Regions from separate parts of the Homo sapiens genome. Here regions 1, 3 and 4 are each linked to region 2. The links come from fine-mapping of genetic effects on gene expression. A gene starts in region 2. Each other region holds a variant in brackets. All regions are shown on one strand. Distances are between the middles of the regions. Region 1 overlaps ANGPTL5 (angiopoietin like 5). Region 2 holds the start of TRPC6 (transient receptor potential cation channel subfamily C member 6). Region 3 overlaps TRPC6 (transient receptor potential cation channel subfamily C member 6). Region 4 has its middle 96 kb from the start of PGR.

What was found. PIP is the estimated chance that this variant, and not a neighbour inherited with it, causes the effect.
Region 1: its variant is the best candidate, but not a certain one, in a credible set for the expression of TRPC6 in subcutaneous fat (GTEx, PIP 0.53).
Region 3: its variant is the best candidate, but not a certain one, in a credible set for the expression of TRPC6 in whole blood (TOPMed, PIP 0.82).
Region 4: its variant is the best candidate, but not a certain one, in a credible set for the expression of TRPC6 in blood mononuclear cells (TOPMed, PIP 0.86).

The regions. Positions count from the first base shown.
Region 1 is chr11:101,894,082-101,898,306 of GRCh38, reverse strand. ANGPTL5 (angiopoietin like 5) reads left to right here. Exons shown (of 9, transcript NM_178127.5): 8 at 3,243-3,428. Among named protein-coding and RNA genes, the nearest start is that of CEP126, 19 kb to the left of the region's middle. The variant C/G (reference allele first, on the strand shown) is at 1,899.
Region 2 is chr11:101,582,056-101,586,055 of GRCh38, reverse strand. It overlaps TRPC6 (transient receptor potential cation channel subfamily C member 6), which reads left to right and starts at 2,049. Exons shown (of 13, transcript NM_004621.6): 1 at 2,049-2,722. The coding sequence starts at 2,553.
Region 3 is chr11:101,514,940-101,519,164 of GRCh38, reverse strand. All of the region lies in intron 1 of TRPC6 (transient receptor potential cation channel subfamily C member 6), which reads left to right. Among named protein-coding and RNA genes, the nearest start is that of MIR3920, 2.9 kb to the left of the region's middle. The variant G/C (reference allele first, on the strand shown) is at 2,084.
Region 4 is chr11:101,223,932-101,228,156 of GRCh38, reverse strand. No RefSeq gene overlaps it. Among named protein-coding and RNA genes, the nearest start is that of PGR, 96 kb to the right of the region's middle. The variant G/A (reference allele first, on the strand shown) is at 2,177.

The sequences.
Region 1 (4,225 bases), 310 kb before region 2:
AATGGAAAAACATGCCATGCTCATAAATAGGAAGAATCAGTATCATGAAAATGGCCATACTGCCCAAAGTAATTTTTTTTTTTGAGACGAAGTTTCACTCGTGTTGCCCAGGCTGGAGAGCAATGGCGTGATCTTGGCTCACTGCAACCTCTGCCTGCTGGGTTCAAGCGATTCTCCTGCCTCAGCCTCCCGAGTAGTTGGGATTACAGGTGCCTGCCTCCATGCCCAGCTAATTTTTGTAATTTAATAGAGATGGGGTTTCACCATGTTGATCAGGCTGATCTTGAACTTCTGACCTCAGGTGATCCACCTGCCTCGGCCTCCCAAAGTGCTGGGATTACAGACATGAGCCACTGTGCCTGCCCAGAGTAATTTATAGATTCAATGCTATTCCCATCAAGCTACCATTGACTTTCTTCACATAATTAGAAAAAACTACTTTAAATTCCATATGGAACCAAAAAAGAGCCTGTATAGTCAAGACAATCCTAAGCAAAAAGAACAAAGCTGGAGGCATCATGCTACCTGACTTCAAACTATACTACAAGGCTACAGTAACCAAAACAGCTTGATACTGGTACCAAAACAGATATATGGACCAATGGAATAGAACAGAGGCCTCAGAAATAACACCACAAATCTACAACCATCTGATCTTTGACAAACCTGACAAAAAAAGCAATGGGGAAAGGATTCCCTTTTTAATAAATGGTGCTGGGAAAACTGGCTAGCCATATGCGGAAAACTGAAACTGGATCCCTTTCTTTTACCTTATACAAAAATTAATTCAAGATAGATTAAAGATTTAAACGTAAGACCTAAAACCATAAAATCCCTAGAAGAAAACCTAGGCAATTCCATTCAGGACATAGGCATGGGCAAAGACTTCATGACTGAAACAACAAAAGCAATTTGAACAAAAGCCAAAATTGACAAATGGGATCTGATTAAACTAAAGAGCTCCTGCACAGCAAAAGAAACTATCATCAGAGTGAATAGGCAACCTGCAGAGTGGGAGAAAATTTTCGCAATCTATCCTTCTGGCAAAGGGCTAATATCCAGAATCTACAAATAACTTAAACAAATTTACAAGAAAAAAACAAACAAGCCCATCAAAAAGTGGGCAAAGGATATGAACAGACACTTTTCAAAAGACGACATTTAAGCGGCCAACCACATATGAAAAAAAGCTTGTCATCACTGGTCATTAGAGAAATGCAAATCAAAACCACAAGGAGATACCATCTCACACCAGTTAGAATGGTGATAAGTAAAAAGTCAGGAAACAACAGATGCTGGAGAGGATGTGGAGAAATAGGAACGCTTTTACACTGTTGGTGGGAGTGTAAATTAGTTCAACCATTGTTGAAGACAGTGTGGTGATTCCTCAAGGATCTAGAACTAGAAATACCATTTGACCCAGCAATCCCATTACTGGGTATATACCCAAAGGATTATAAATCATTCTACTATAAAGACACATGTACATGTACGTGTATTGCAGCACTATTCACAACAGCAAAGACTTGGCACCAACCCAAATGCCCATCAATGATAGACTGGATAAGGAAAATGTGGCACATATACACCATGGAATACTATGCAGCCATAAAAAGAATGAGTTCATGTCCTTTGCAGGGACATGGATGAAGCTAGAAACCGTCATTCTCAGCAAACTAACACAGGAACAGAAAACCAAACACTGCATATTCTCACTCATAAGTAGGAGTTGAACAATGAGAACACATGGACACAAGGAGGGGAACATCACACACAGGAGCCTGTCAGGGGGTGGGGGCTAGAGGAGGGATAGCATTAGAAGAAATACCTAATGTAGATAACGAGTTCATGGGTGCAGCGAATCACCATGCCACATGTATATCTGTGTAACAAACCTG[C/G]ACATTTTGCACATGTGTCCCAGAACTTAAGTATAATAAAAAATAAACACAAAAATTAGCTGGGGGTGGTGGTGCATGCCTCTGTAATCCCAGCTACTTGGGAGGCTGAGGCATGAGAATCGCTTGAACTGGGGGGAGGCGGAAGTTGCAGTGAGCCGAGATCGCACTACTGCACCGTAGCCTGGGTGACAGAGTTAGACTCTCAATAAATAAATAAATAAATAAATAAATAAATAAATAAATAAATAAATATAGGATTACAGAAAATGTATTTTTAAGTCTTAAATTTGAGGGTGGGGTACTGGGAAATGATGGCAGGGGCACTTAAATTGAAGTGTTGTATACTGTGTGAGACTCAGTGGACCCCTCTGGAGCCATTTTACTGGGCCCACTTTCTCTCCTTACTTTTCGATTGTAAGTGAGCGTGTTGCTAAAATGTCTGCCCCTGTGAGCTCTGAAGAAAGACTTAATATCTTAGCTATAATTTGAAGAGTTTGAATGCTGTCATGTTATTCTCCAACTCTGAAGTTTGTTTTGACTGGACCCTTATTTTCTTTAATAATTTTATGATTCAAGTAGAGGCATATATCTCAGAGCAGAGATATACACATTTGGGCTATGCCACGTGGGTAGGGAGAGGTAGAAAGCCATTGGCTAGAATATGTATGCAAGAAGTATGCAGTCCGAGTTGGGGAGTTTTATATTTCATCCTGAATCTATAATTGTCTTGGAAATATTGATCCTAAACCCGGGGATATTCCAATGTTATTACATTATGTTCAGGGCATAGGAAATTAACCAGCTGCATTGTAGCAAAGAAGTGTCTGTTAAGAAAGTATTCCAAGACAGAAAAAAATAATTTCAACTGAGTGTTTTTAGGAAATTTTTCTTCAGGAACCGCTGATTTGGAGGTTAAACCTTCTCATTTACTGGTAAATAACGTTTTGTTACCTGCCATAATATTTCAATTGGTTTTATGTTGAAATGCCTTAAGGTAAAATTTGACTTTCTATTTTATTCTTTAAATGAAGACTAATTTAATTTTGGGAGATAAAATTTGGGGAGATCATTATTATCTTCTCTCCTCAAATTTTACTTAATTTGGGGAGATAAAAATGAAAAAGGGTCTGATTTTCTCAAGTCTGGTGAAGTAGAAGTAGGAATTTTGTTTGTTTTATGAAGTAGGTAAGCACTGATAATTTGAGCTAGGTCATCCAGTGCCTTTAATTACTTATCTGAGCCATCTCAGAGTTTTTGAAATGCTAAACAAGACCAAACATTCAATAATAAACCATTATTCTAATTTGTATTAAAATATATTAAAACAAAGCATTTTTTTTACAGGAGAATTTTGGCTAGGACTGAAAAAGATTTTTTATATAGTAAATCAGAAAAATACCAGTTTTATGCTGTATGTGGCTTTGGAATCTGAAGATGACACTCTTGCTTATGCATCATATGATAATTTTTGGCTAGAGGATGAAACGAGATTTTTTAAAATGCACTTAGGACGGTATTCAGGAAATGCTGGTAAGATTTTTTTTATTCCTAAAATTATCCAGATCTAAATTATAACTGACTCATTATTAAGTGAAGATAAAAATAATGCATTTGTCTTTGTATATAACACATAACTGATAACAGGATAGATTAGGAATAAGAAAGCTGGCCAAGTCTTGAGTTTTGAAACTTTGTTATGATCATTGTACTACCTCATGCTTCTGAAGTGCTTTATAGTCTCTAAAACAATTTGCCTTATGTAATCTCAGTTGATTCTTTGGATAGAGAGCCTGTGGAGTAGGCTGTGAAGGCATTTTCATTTTCATGTTCAGAGAGGCTGACATTTAGAAGTGACAGACTGTTAGAGATGATCTCTAGTCATCTCACTTTACAGGTGAAAAAACCTGAGTGATAAAGTGACTTGCCCAACGTTCCCAGATCACGTCACCTGAGCCAAGGCAAGAATCCAGGCTGACAGAACAACAAGTTTAGTGTTTTTTCATTATACTTTGATGCATCTGCTCATTTCCAAATAAATTTAATTTGTCAGAACTTCAAAATACTTGATGTTAAACTTGCATTTTAATGCTGAAAATGTAAAGGCATTTGAGTTAAAAAGCACTAAATTCAACTCCCTTGTTGCTGTTTGTGGTACTTGTTCATTATGTATATTTAGTGTTAGAAATCAAAAAATAAATGATATATGTTCCCAGGTCTTTAACTGCTCCCAATATAAAGGGGAAGATAAGTAACACTGGAAATACAGAATACTGATAGAACTTTTGGGGTCAGAAAGAGGGTGAGAATGATTTCAGTTGATTGCACCC
Region 2 (4,000 bases):
TGATGAAAAAACTGAGGCAGAGAGAGATTTAATGACCTCTCTGAAATCATGTAACTTCAGTTAGGGAAGTGGCCGAAATAAAAATCCAGGCTTTGAGACTTCTGATCTAATGATTCCACTTCATCATGTCATAAGCTCTTTCAGAATCTTCTAACATTTGTACACCACCTTATTCCTTCTGGGTACTCAATAAATGACTGGGCTTGTTGTTCTAGTACTCACAATAATTCAAAAAAAAAAAAAAAAACAGAGGAAAACATGTCTTACCACATGATAAATTGATGTCAGAATAAGTTTACTGTAGTAATTTTTTCAGTGTGAAGGTTGTTACCTGTGAATGAAAAACAGTGTAACAACAGCAAAATAAATTCTGTCTCAGTTTTTGTTTTTTTTCTTTTTATGTGAAAGGTTAACACTTCAACTGACACTACAAATGTTTATTAATTTGGCTTTAACTCACAGAATTTGAATTGGGTAGAAAACCTTTGAATATTACTTTTCCCATGAATGTTTTCCCCATACTTGGTGTTGCCAAAGAGATTACCTTGGCACTGTTTAACTAAACGTTTATTGATTAATTCATTCAAGCATCAAAGCTAATGAATACTTACAGATAGCAGTTGCCACAAACAAATTTTAGGAAGAATATCTTATTGCTAGGTATAGTAACTAGAAAATTATAAGAATTTTAAATCATGGCTCCACATGTTGAAAGATCAAAAAGGAAGGCTGTTAAATCAGAAAGAACAGACTTCAGAATGATGCAGGTTGTTTGTTTCCCCAGGGAAAATGTTCTTTCCAGGGCCAAGAGCATTTTCTTATTTTTTCTATATTCCTTCCATCCATCCATCCATCCATCCGTCCATCCATCCATCCATCCACCCACCCACCCACTCACCCACCCAAGCATGCATGCATGCACCCTACACACCTGTGTCAAATACGAAGCTGGATCCTCAGGACACAGTGGTTTCTGCTCTCTCTGAGTTTCAGTTCTAAATTTAAAGGCAAACTCAGAAGTTTCTAAATGTGTGAGCTCTTTTCCCTTCTATCAAATCAATTGCATTTTCCCACACTTCCAACATTCATTTTGTTGTCCACCTGTTCATGGGAAGCAAAGGCACCTTTGCAGACAGATTTCAGTCTGGCTTTCTTTCATCCAATTGCAATGGGCCTCTGATCTTTTCATGGCTGGCTGCTTGCCATGCATGTCTCAACTTAACGAGCACCTCCTTGGAGGGGCCTCTTTTAACCATCTCATCTGAAGTAGTCATTCACCAGCTGCCATCACATCAACCTGTTTTATTTTCATTGTAGCATTTGTCCTTGATATTTTTTCATTTGCTTATTTAATTGGTCCCCCTTTCTGCCACGAAAGCTCTATGAGGGCAGACAGGTGCCTCATCTGCTTCTTTGCCTCCGAATTCTGAAATGATTTGAAACGCAGTTGGCATTCATTAAATATTTGTTGACTTAATGAATGGATTCTTAATTGGCTACTACTGCTTAAAGGTCTACAAATACTGATTCATCCTTGTTGACAAGTTTTTACTTCTCACACGTATGCATATTAATCAGAATTTAAAACTAAGTCTTAAAAATAAAACAGCTTGGAAACGTGGGAAACATCTGGCAGAGAAATCATTCTTGCATTCGCAGTGACGGAAGGAAAATTTTTTCTCTGAAGTAAGCAGGTTGTTGGCCTCTTTATCGGTATCATTGGAAAATGCTTGCCTATTTTTGTTGGTTTTCTCAGGAACTGGGAACATCTGGCGTTTGGAACATAGAACGTTGTTCATTTTTAAAGCAGAGTCATAATAACTTTATGAGTTGAGGGTAAGAGAGAAAATGACCAAAGAAAATGAAGGCAGTCTGGAGAAAGAAGAGGCTCGTGTCCCTTTTAAGGAACAGGTTTCCTTGGCTCTTTGAGAGTGGTTCTTAAAGGAAGCTTCCTACGAAGTCCGCAGTTGGTATCCTTACTAAATGAGCCAACTAAATAGTGGAGGGGAAAAAAAGAGTGCGTGCCTGGCTCCTCCTAGTTCAGGCTCATACCGCCTCCTGAAAGTTGTGGCTACAGGACAGGCTTTGGCTGCTTTCTAGAACGTCGCTCGGATCCCTTTAAAGGTGGGGATCTTGACGGAGAGTGCGGGGGATGAAGGCGGGAGCTGAGGGCTGGAGAGTCTCTGTTGACATAGTAACTCTTCAGCTCCGTCTCCCTTGCTCTCCGCTCTTACGCTTCGCTACCACCAGCGGCCCCGCCTGTGCCCTCTCTGCCCGGGCGCCCCAGACGCATCCTCGCGGGGTCTCCTCGGCCTGACCTGCTCAGGTCAAGATCCTCTTTGCACCCCCTTAAGTGGTGACTTTTCCCCGGGCCAGTGGGCGAGCCACTTGCGGCGGGCGTCTGCACCCCCTGCTTCACCGTCGTCCCCTGGGCACCGGTCTGCCCAGGTCCAGTTCGGCCGCTGACGCGAACCCTCCGCACCGGGTCCCCGCTGGAACTGCCCACTCGGCTCCCCCGGGAGCGGGGCCCAGGCCAGTCGGGCGTTCCCGCCATGAGCCAGAGCCCGGCGTTCGGGCCCCGGAGGGGCAGTTCTCCCCGGGGCGCTGCCGGAGCCGCTGCGCGGCGCAACGAGAGCCAGGACTATCTGCTCATGGACTCGGAGCTGGGAGAAGACGGCTGCCCGCAAGCCCCGCTGCCTTGCTACGGCTACTACCCCTGCTTGTGAGTGCCGGCGACGCGGGGCGGATCGGGCGCGGGCTGCGCGGAGGGAGGTTGTGCGCTCGCAGGAGTGGCCGAGTCCGTCCGCGCGCGTCCTGAACCCGCGTGTGTACCTCCTAGGACGGTGCTGGGAGGTCCGCGAGAGCCAGGGCTGGGACCTGAGTGAGTGGAGGGGCGCGCGGGGAGTGGGGGAGGCGGGGTTGTCTAGGTTTGCTCCTCGTAGGTACGCATGGATATGTTTGCCCACGAGAGTGAGACCGCATAGTAACACCACCATTGCAGGTGATTAGATGGGTGGTCGATTTCTCCAGACCCCTTCATCCTGCGCTCTACAAGAGACAGGATCGCTACGTAACAGGCGGGATCTGAACAGGGGGCTGATTCAGATGTGCGCCCGGGTGACTCTTAGCCTATGTGGGGGAGAGATGACTAGAACTCCAAGGGTTGGAGCTGCCTGGGTGCTGGGTGCGCCCGGCGGTCTCCACGCTTGGCTTAGCGTTTCGGGCTGAGCGCTGAGGTCCTTGGACCGTGGGACAGCCAAAGTTAGACCAGGACCTCTCCCCGGTCCTGGGGCCTTGGAGTGAAGACAGAAATAGAACCAATAGGACTCTCCACCGGCGGCGCGAACCTTTTCACCCGGGGCGTCTGGGGAGACGAGCCTGTTAGGGGCTGGGAGACTCACGGGCTATAGAAGTGAGGGCGTCGGGTCGTTTGTATTGGGCTGTGGGTAACTGCAAGCTTTTGTTTATGAATCTAGGGTATTTTTTTTTTTAGCTGGGTGGGTGGCGGGAGGGGAGGTAGGGAGTAAGCAGAGTGGACTCCAGAAGAAAAGACTCCGCTTCCCCGACACCGCTGTGACCACATGTGCAGCGGGCAGATAGCATTTCTGTCCCATTGCCCCTTTGGGTGATTGGGTAGTCAAGTTTCCTGACTTGTCACATCCACCCGCAAGCGGTTTCCCGAGGTTCTCAGCTCTATAAACAGCTTTAGTTGGAGGGAGGATTCCACCCCATAGGCGCCTGGCAGACCCTCCTGATAGATGGGTGCTGTGTCAGGGCTGCCCAGCCTCAAGCCCTGCTGCGGTGCCCTTTCGAAGTAAGAGGTGAGCCGCAGTAAAGGGAGCATCTAACTTTTCTCAAAGATAAAGGAGAATAGTTAGAACTGGTTTCATTCATCTGTGTGCTGTGCAAGTTAAGAGCATTTACAATTATGTATATGTTTTTCTTTTTAAAAGTTCAAGACATAATTCCCATACCACGTAATTCCCCCATTTAACTTGTA
Region 3 (4,225 bases), 67 kb after region 2:
AGTTAAGTCATTATTGACTATGGTTAACCTATTGTGCTATCAAATAGTAGGTCTTACTCATTCTTTCTTCTTTTTTGTACCCTTAACCATCCCCAACTCGTCCCAAACCTTCAGTACCCTTCCCAGCCTCTGGTAACCATTCTTCTACTCTCTGTGTCCATGAATTCAATTGTTTTAATTTTTAGCTCCCACAGATGAGTGAGAACATGCAAAGCTTGTCTTTCCGTACCTGGCTTATTTCACTTAACATAATGATCTCCACTTCCATCCATGTTGTTGCAAATGCCTGGATCTCATTCTTTTTTATGGCTAACTAGTCCTCCATTGCGTATAAGTACCACATTTTCTTCATCCATTCATTTGTTGATGGACACTTAGGTTGCTTCCAAATCTTAGCTGTTGTAAGCAGTGCTGCAACAAACATGGGAGTGCAGCTACCTCTTTGATATACTGATTTCCTTTCTTTTGTGTATATACCCAGCAGTGGGATTGCTGGATCATATGGCAGCTCAATTTTTAGTTTTTTGAGGAACCTCCAAACTATTCTTCATAGTACCAATTTACATTCCCACCAACACTGTACAAGGGTTTCCTTTTCTTCACATCCTCACCAGCATTTGTTATTGCCTGTCTTTTGGATATAATTCATTTTAACTTGGGTGAGATGACATCTCATTGTAGTATTGATTGGCATTTCTCTGATGATCAATGATGTTAAGCATCTTTTCATATTTCTGTTTGCAATTTGTATGTCTTCTTTTGAGAAATTTCTATTCAAATATTATGCCTATTTTTCGATTAGATTATTAATTTTTTTTCCTGTATGGTTGTTTGAGCACTTTATATATTCTGGTTATTAATCCCTTGTCAGAGGGGCAGTTTGCAAATATTTTCTTCGATTCTGTGGGTTGTCTCTTTACTTTATTGATTGTGTCCTTTGCTGTGCAGAAGAGAGATTACTTTAAAAGCAAGGAAACAGAAGACCAAAGAGGGCAAATGATGCTTTTCTTTCAACTGAAATGGTGGCAAAAATCTGGCTGATTCTATTGATTAAGTTCCACAATAACATCTCATGAGCAGATATACCAGTATATCACAACTCTGAGCTCCAGCTAAGATCTGAGGATTATTGACTCAAACAACTTTTTAATCTAGGCCAATTCTTCTGCTTTCATTGGCCACAGTATAAATGGGAACAAATTTAACACCAGCTATGGGAATATCTAGAGAACAATATGTTGTTTATTGAACTGGATCTTCATCATAAGAAAATTCTCCTTAACAGGACCAGAAACTAATTTCCTTTCAATAACATTTGTTTTTAGGTAATAGCATTTTGGAATAAAAATGATCTAACAGCTGAGGGTTCTAAGTAGCTGTTTAACATTGGGCAAGTTAGTTTGTATCTTGGTTTCTTCAGGTAGAAATTAACTATATAATTAATAATTTTTATATATTCCCTCCTCTAGAAAAACTTAAAGCAGTTACTTGAAAAGTGATAAGGTTGAAACAATTTTAAATACCCTTCTGGAACTTAAAACTTGTGGTTCTATCATTATTACTTTGGTGGGTAAAGTGGAAGTAATGCAGAAATGTATTCCATGCATGCAAACACTTAAATAACTAGCATTCAGTCAGTGACTAATGGCAGTAATAAAGAATCACCGAGTAGGATACATAGAGGAAACATGAGCCTTCGGCAGAGTTCTCAAATTTAAATTTACTAGCATAGGAATAAAAAGACAATTAGTAAAAATGGTTTGAGTTATATCTGTAAAGACTGAAAACAAGCATTCTTAGCATAAGAGAAAAAGGGTAAGATAAGAATAATTTGTCCGTGGAAAATAGAACTTTTCTTTCATGTTATACCAAAACACCAGGGCTTTAGTCAACTAGATTTGCTTTATGGTGTACCAAAGCAATGGCTTCACTAGTTTGACTGAATTTGTTTTCCTTTTCACCTTCCTTTAGGGAAGTCATATAACTTTTATAGCTTGAACATACTATTGTAAGTAGAGGCACATTGATCACATCTCTGAAAACTGAATACAGCTGCAAATGGATATAGACAAATTCCATTCTG[G/C]TTCAACATAATGGGTAGCTTTCCAGCTACTGGCTGTTCATATTATGTAGCTTTCAGCGTAGTTCAGTGTTTTGCTTTTGTAAAATTGGTTTTAAAAAAATGTGGGCAAAAGGGGAAACATGGCAAAAAACCTTGATTGACAGCCTTACTCCTAAAGGCAATGTGGAAGAGTTCAGTGAGGGTGAGCCCTCTCTCGCCTCTGAGGTAATGTGTTCTGACCTGCTCTTTTATAGCAGAGAAGAGAGTAGACAGCAGCAGATGCATGGCCAGATGCCCTGCTGGCTACTCGGCTAGCTGCTGCAGCTCTGAGGAACCCTGCGTTCCCAGGATGAAATTCATGGTCACCCCCTGAGCAACCTACAGGGGCTCTTGCAAACTCTCAGGGAAGCTGGAGCCAGATAATGAACCACAGGTTCTGCTCTGCTTATCTCATGTTAGGAGCCTTCCTCTAAGAATATAGCAGTGGCAGTATTTCCCTTCCTTATTCTACCAAGTTTGTGCTAAGTACTTACTTTTTTTGAGCTAATTTGTATTGTTTAGGGCATGCAAAGATGGAAAAGCTATAAAAAATAAGAGAGTGCTTAACATAAAAACCAGATAATGGTTGGTCGTTGGGGTTCAGGGGAAGATAGTAATTTAAATAGGCACACAGAGGTCTTTAAAATGATCAGCGATCACATTCTTAAGTGGGGATGGGTAGGAAAATGGTGTTAATTTTGTTATTAATCTTAAAATTGTAGTTCTTTTCAGCATGTGTGCGTCACAATAATAAAAAATAAGATTTAAGAAATGAAATAGGACATCTGCAAACCTAGGTTTACAGTCTTGCCTTACCATGCATTGCTAGCATGAACTTAAGAGGGAAGTTTCTATGTATCAATCAGTTCATAACTAATCCTAGGTATTGTTGAAATCCACAAATTTTCACAGTTTTTGGGGAGGGGATATTGAAACTCTGCTTTTTTTTTTTTTTCCCAGCTGCATTTTAAAAGAAATTCAGAAAACAAAAGCCCCCAAACATTTTTCCTTATATATGCCATGCCTGTTCAGGAGTGATCTCCAAACATTTCCTCATGTAGTGAAATAACAAAGCCAACCTCACCAAATGCCGTGAAAATTAAATAAAATAACACCTATAAAGTTATTTGGTCATAGTAAAAACTTTTAATAAATATCAATTTCCATCCTCCTAGCCTTAGTGAAATTAATTTAATATATGTGTACCTACAAGTTTATATAATATTTTTATTGATAAAGCTAGAGAAACAGGGCTAAATATATAGTAAACTTATAATTTACTTGACATGATTAGTATACTCAAAATCAAACTCCATCAAATTGCTATATTTCATTTTTACTTAGGGTGGATAAGTACATTTCACTTTATGACAAGTAAAAATTTGTTTAAAATACTGTGAAATTCTAATTTTTAAAAAGTTTCTTGAAATGGAGTAAAATAATTTGAGAAACTCCTAAAAACTGTGACAAACTAGGGTGCTCTCCATTCGTTTTTCTTTTCATGTTGCTTTTTTATTCATTTGTAGATGCATAAAACATTTTGTGTCTGGCTCTGTGCTTGGCACAGGAATTCAATGATAAGTTCAGGTTTAAAGAATATAGGTAAGAAGGGAAAGGGAAATATATAGTCACAGATGAAGGTATAAGAATAGAATACACTTCAAGAATAGTGGCAGCAAAACAAAGCACAGAGTATTCCGAAGATTAAAAACATAATGCCCATTTGGCCATGTTGACATCACAGCAAGGGAAAAAACAAACGAACAAAAAAAACAAACGAGGTCAAACTGTGTTCTTTGGACACATGGTGCAGATGTAACAGCTGGCATTAAAGGAAGAGAAGCCATTTAATGATTTCTTAGTTTCTATCTCCTTTATTAAGCAGCACATCTTCAAACTGGAAAGTCTTGAATAATTATGATTAAGAAGGATTTAAAGTCCATGACAGATGAGGCATTGAATTACCTTAAGCAGAATTCCACAAATCACCAATTTCATAGTAACCCTAACAGGTAACTGCTATCCTTGATGCTGTTCCCTTTCCATTTTTACAGTTAAGGAATCCGAGGCTCAGAGGGATGACACAGGTAGTAACTGACAGAGTAAGGATTCCCAACTCAGCAT
Region 4 (4,225 bases), 360 kb after region 2:
AGTAGAGATGGGGTTTCACCGTGTTAGCCAGGATGGTCTCGATCTCCTGACCTCGTGATCCGCCCATCTCGGCCTCCCAAAGTGCTGGGATTACAGGCGTGAGCCACTGCGCCCGGCCTCCCCAGCAAATCTTATTGTATGAGTAATAAACTTCTTCATACCCTGTTGGGTGTGTGTGTGTGTGTGTGTGTGTTCATCAATCTTGACATTTGAACCAAATTTTGTATGGGGGTCCATCCTACATTTTCAAAGTGGCTAGACAACTCATTAAATGAGAATAATCTTGTTTAAAACCATCAACAAGTTGATAAAGTATTAAGCAGTGTTCTAGAACACTTTACTATCACTCTCTCCTCCCAATTAACATGTTTTTCTTTAGTTCTGTTTCCTTTTTAACCTATAAATAAGATAGCACTATTTTTAGTATCTTATAAAGACAATGTTTACCTATATGTTTACCAACATATTTGAGCACCATTTCTTTTTTCTGTCTCCTACCTGCTGTCTGTAGTCATTTTCTTTATTTATTTCAGCAATTCTTTTATCTTACACATTTCACTGTTGTCACCTCTTCATAGATGATCTGCCTGGCCTTTATGCCTGCTTTTATGAGCTTCTCCTTGGTTTTATGCTGTTTCATCACAAAGTGTGAAGGTGTACTTTTTTCCTAATTTATCCTGCACGGTATTTGCGTTGGTTTGGTTCCCTCTGTGTAGATTCATATTTTTCATCTATTTTTAGCTATTATTTCTGCAAATATTCACTCTCTTAAATTTCCTCTATTCTGACTTTGTAGCAGTTCCTTTGCCTTATATTGAATCTTATTCTTTCCTTCATATTTCTAAAACTTTCTTCTATATTTTTGTCTTCTCTATGTACTATATTCTAAGTGATTTATTTTGGCTTATCTTCCAGTTCACATCTTTCTTCAGCTATGTCTGATCTGCTATTTAATATTGATTTTTTAAAACAATTTTATTTTTTATACCTAAAATTTCTATTTTTTTCAAAATGATCCTAGTAATTTCCTGAGGTCTCTGCTTTTGCATTTTAGATTCTGTTTTTTTTTATATTTTTAGACACTTCATTTTTAGTTATATTGTGTTCTCTGTTTCTTAGTTTCAATATCCAAAACCCTTGGGGAAATCTCTCTTGTTTTTGCTAAATTTCAGTCATACAGTCATCTCTTTTGTGGTTTTGTTGATCTTTATTTTGAGCTAAATTTGCTTGAGCTTAATCTATGAAAATCTTGCAGTCTAAATAGAAGTTGTTATCTTCCAGAGAGGATTTGCACCACTTCTACTAAAAGCCAGGAGTTGCTCTCAATCTGGAATCACTTGAGTTCAGTTTAACGATTCCACATTGCAACCAACCGACGACACTGTCTCTTCTTTCTACACTAATATCAGCACTTCTTTTTTTTTTAGGCAACTTCACTTTTCCAGCTTGTTCTGCAGTTACCGCTCAGTGGTCCTACTCTAGCCTAAACTCACGTATCAATTTGCATAATATGTGTTTATTTAGGAGGTGATTCTTGGAGATTTTCTTAACTCCCTTGAGTCTAGCAATGCATTAGAAAAATGCATGTTTTATTTAGGATCTAGTTAATTTGTAGGAGGAATGCCTTCAGAATTAACCTTACTTCTAGAAGCAGAAATTTAAAGATCAGAATTTCAGCTCATTGAACCAGAGATATTCAGGAGTAGGAGTAAGATGTGCCTCTTAACTTATGCTCCAGAAGCAATTGCCTCCTCAGTCTATACATCACAGGGACAGCCCTCTCATACATTTAAGTGGAAATAGAAGACTCATCATTATATAACTTTTCTAGATTATATTTCTTGCATTGTCTTGAATTATATTTTTATTTAAAAATGTTTCATTTTTAAAGTGATTTTGAGGCCGGGCGTGGTGGCTCATGCCTGTAATCCCCGCATTTTGGGAGGCCAAGGAGGGCGGATCATGAGGTCAGGAGATCGAGACCATCCTGGCTAATATGGTGAAACCCCGTCTCTATTAAAAATACAAACAATTAGCCAGGTGTGAGGGCGGGCACCTGTAGACCCAGCTACTCGGGAGGCTGAGGCAGGAGAATGGCATGAACCCGGGAGGTGGAGCTTGCAGTGAGCTGAGATCGCACCACTGCACTCCAGCCTGGGCAAGAGAGCAAAACTCC[G/A]TCTCAAAAAAAAACAAAAAACAAAAAAAAACACCTGATTTTGATTATCTCTTTTGTTTGTTCATTTTATTTTATTTTGCTTTTTGTTTCGTTTTAGGGCATTTAGTACTAGTTTTCAAAAAGTCTTGTTATACTGGTAATAATTTTTAAAGAGATACCTCCCCAAACTGTTTGTGTTCTCATTATAATAAACTAAAAAGAAAAGTTAAACTCTTTGTCTGGTTATGTCAATCTGGAGAGTTGATTTATACCTTGAAGAAGATTAGTTTTGACTCAGCATTTTGTAACTACTAAATTTTCATTTAACAGTACATCTTTCCTGAGCTACAATTTCCAACTGGTATAATTATTGTACAGAATTTTGAGTAGCTGTATTGCACCTTGGTCGCTTATCATATAACTAATAAGTTATAATTATAGCAACAAAACACTTTGAAAAGCAAAATTAGTTTAGTGGCAATCAAATTCAAAAATCCATTCAAAGAAAGCTAAGTAATAACTGTAATTGAGTCATATGTAAAATGAAAAAGCTTCAAAACATAATGTTTTAAAACATCTTGTAGAAAAGTGACACAGCATCTTTGATTTTCTTGTTATGTTGCTCTTTAGCTATAAAGATAAAAAAATTGGAGCAAGATGATTGACTAGAGATGCTGAGCATGCATGTCTGTGACAAGAAAGGACCAAGGCAACAACAAATAAACAGCTAAGATTTGACTGGAGTGTCAAAGGGAGAGGACTGGAGTGCAGTAGGGGAGTGGAGATACACTTGCAGTGACTGGAATTCCAGGAGGTCATCACCTCCGTTGTGTTGTCTCCACCACTTGGAATAGATTGGCCCAGAGTTAGGAGAGACTTCCAGTTGCAGGAAAAAGGTAAGCAGATGATCCCGCCACTCTCCAGTGCCACTGAAAACACCTACCATTCTTACTACAGGGGAAGCTCCATAGTACTCAACAAGCCTTGAGCCCAGATTGGAAGGCTGCTGGGAATTCATGCAGACGCATTGCCTCAGACTAGGCACACAAGGTGTGCACCATCTGCCCCTCACCAACCCCTGTGAGACAAGCTGCTGCAGCATAGTGCCATCTTGAGACCAGAGCCACCTCTAGAGTGCACCCTCCTCTGGGACCTGGTAGCCACTATACTTCCTCAGTACTGTAACTCCATTTTCATTATGCCAAGCCCATACTGATGGCTAAATGCCACAACCAGCTGTGAGGAGCCTGGGTCCAGGATCAGCTATGATTTGGCTGAGTTGATGTCTGTTCCCCAACCTAGCAGCTGTGCACCCACATCCTAGACTTAAGAAATAACCCTGTGGGCCATACCGAGCAGAAATGTCCCTAGACCAGCCAAAAAGCCATATGACCACATCCTGAGCCTGAGAAACACCCGTGTGGGCCACCCCAAGCAAACATATCCCCAGGTCAACTGGGCAGTCATGCCGCTGTGTCCTGAGCCTGAGAAACAGCCCCATGGGTCACCCCAAGCAGATATGTGCCATACTGGGCCAGCCCAGTAGCTATGTGCCCACATAGCAGAACTAAAAAACAGCCTGTCAGGATGCCTCTGGTAAGCACATCCCCAAGCCAGCCAAGTAGCCTTGTGCCCCATCCCAGGCCTGAGAAACAATCTTGTGGGCTGCCTCTGACAAACACATTCCCAAACCAACCAAGCAACCACATGCCCATGCTCCTGGCCAGAGTAACAGCCCTATGGCCCCAACCCCAGTGAGCCAGATATGAAGTCAGCCAAACCACCATGTGCGTAAAAATGACCCTGACCTGAGAAATAGCCTGGCAAGCCCATTCCTGGAGAGCCACACCACAAATTCTGTCAGTCTAAGCTGATGATAAACTTACAAATGTTACCAGTGTGGATTACAGCTAAAGAAACTACATGGAGAGTTACACTACTGCATCTAGAACCAAGGCCAATATACTCCATCAAACCAACACAGCAATGCTCATTTATGCAAATAGCTCTTTTGATATGAAGCCTATTCAATTAAAGAGAAAAGTCATCTTTTCCAGTACATGCATAGAA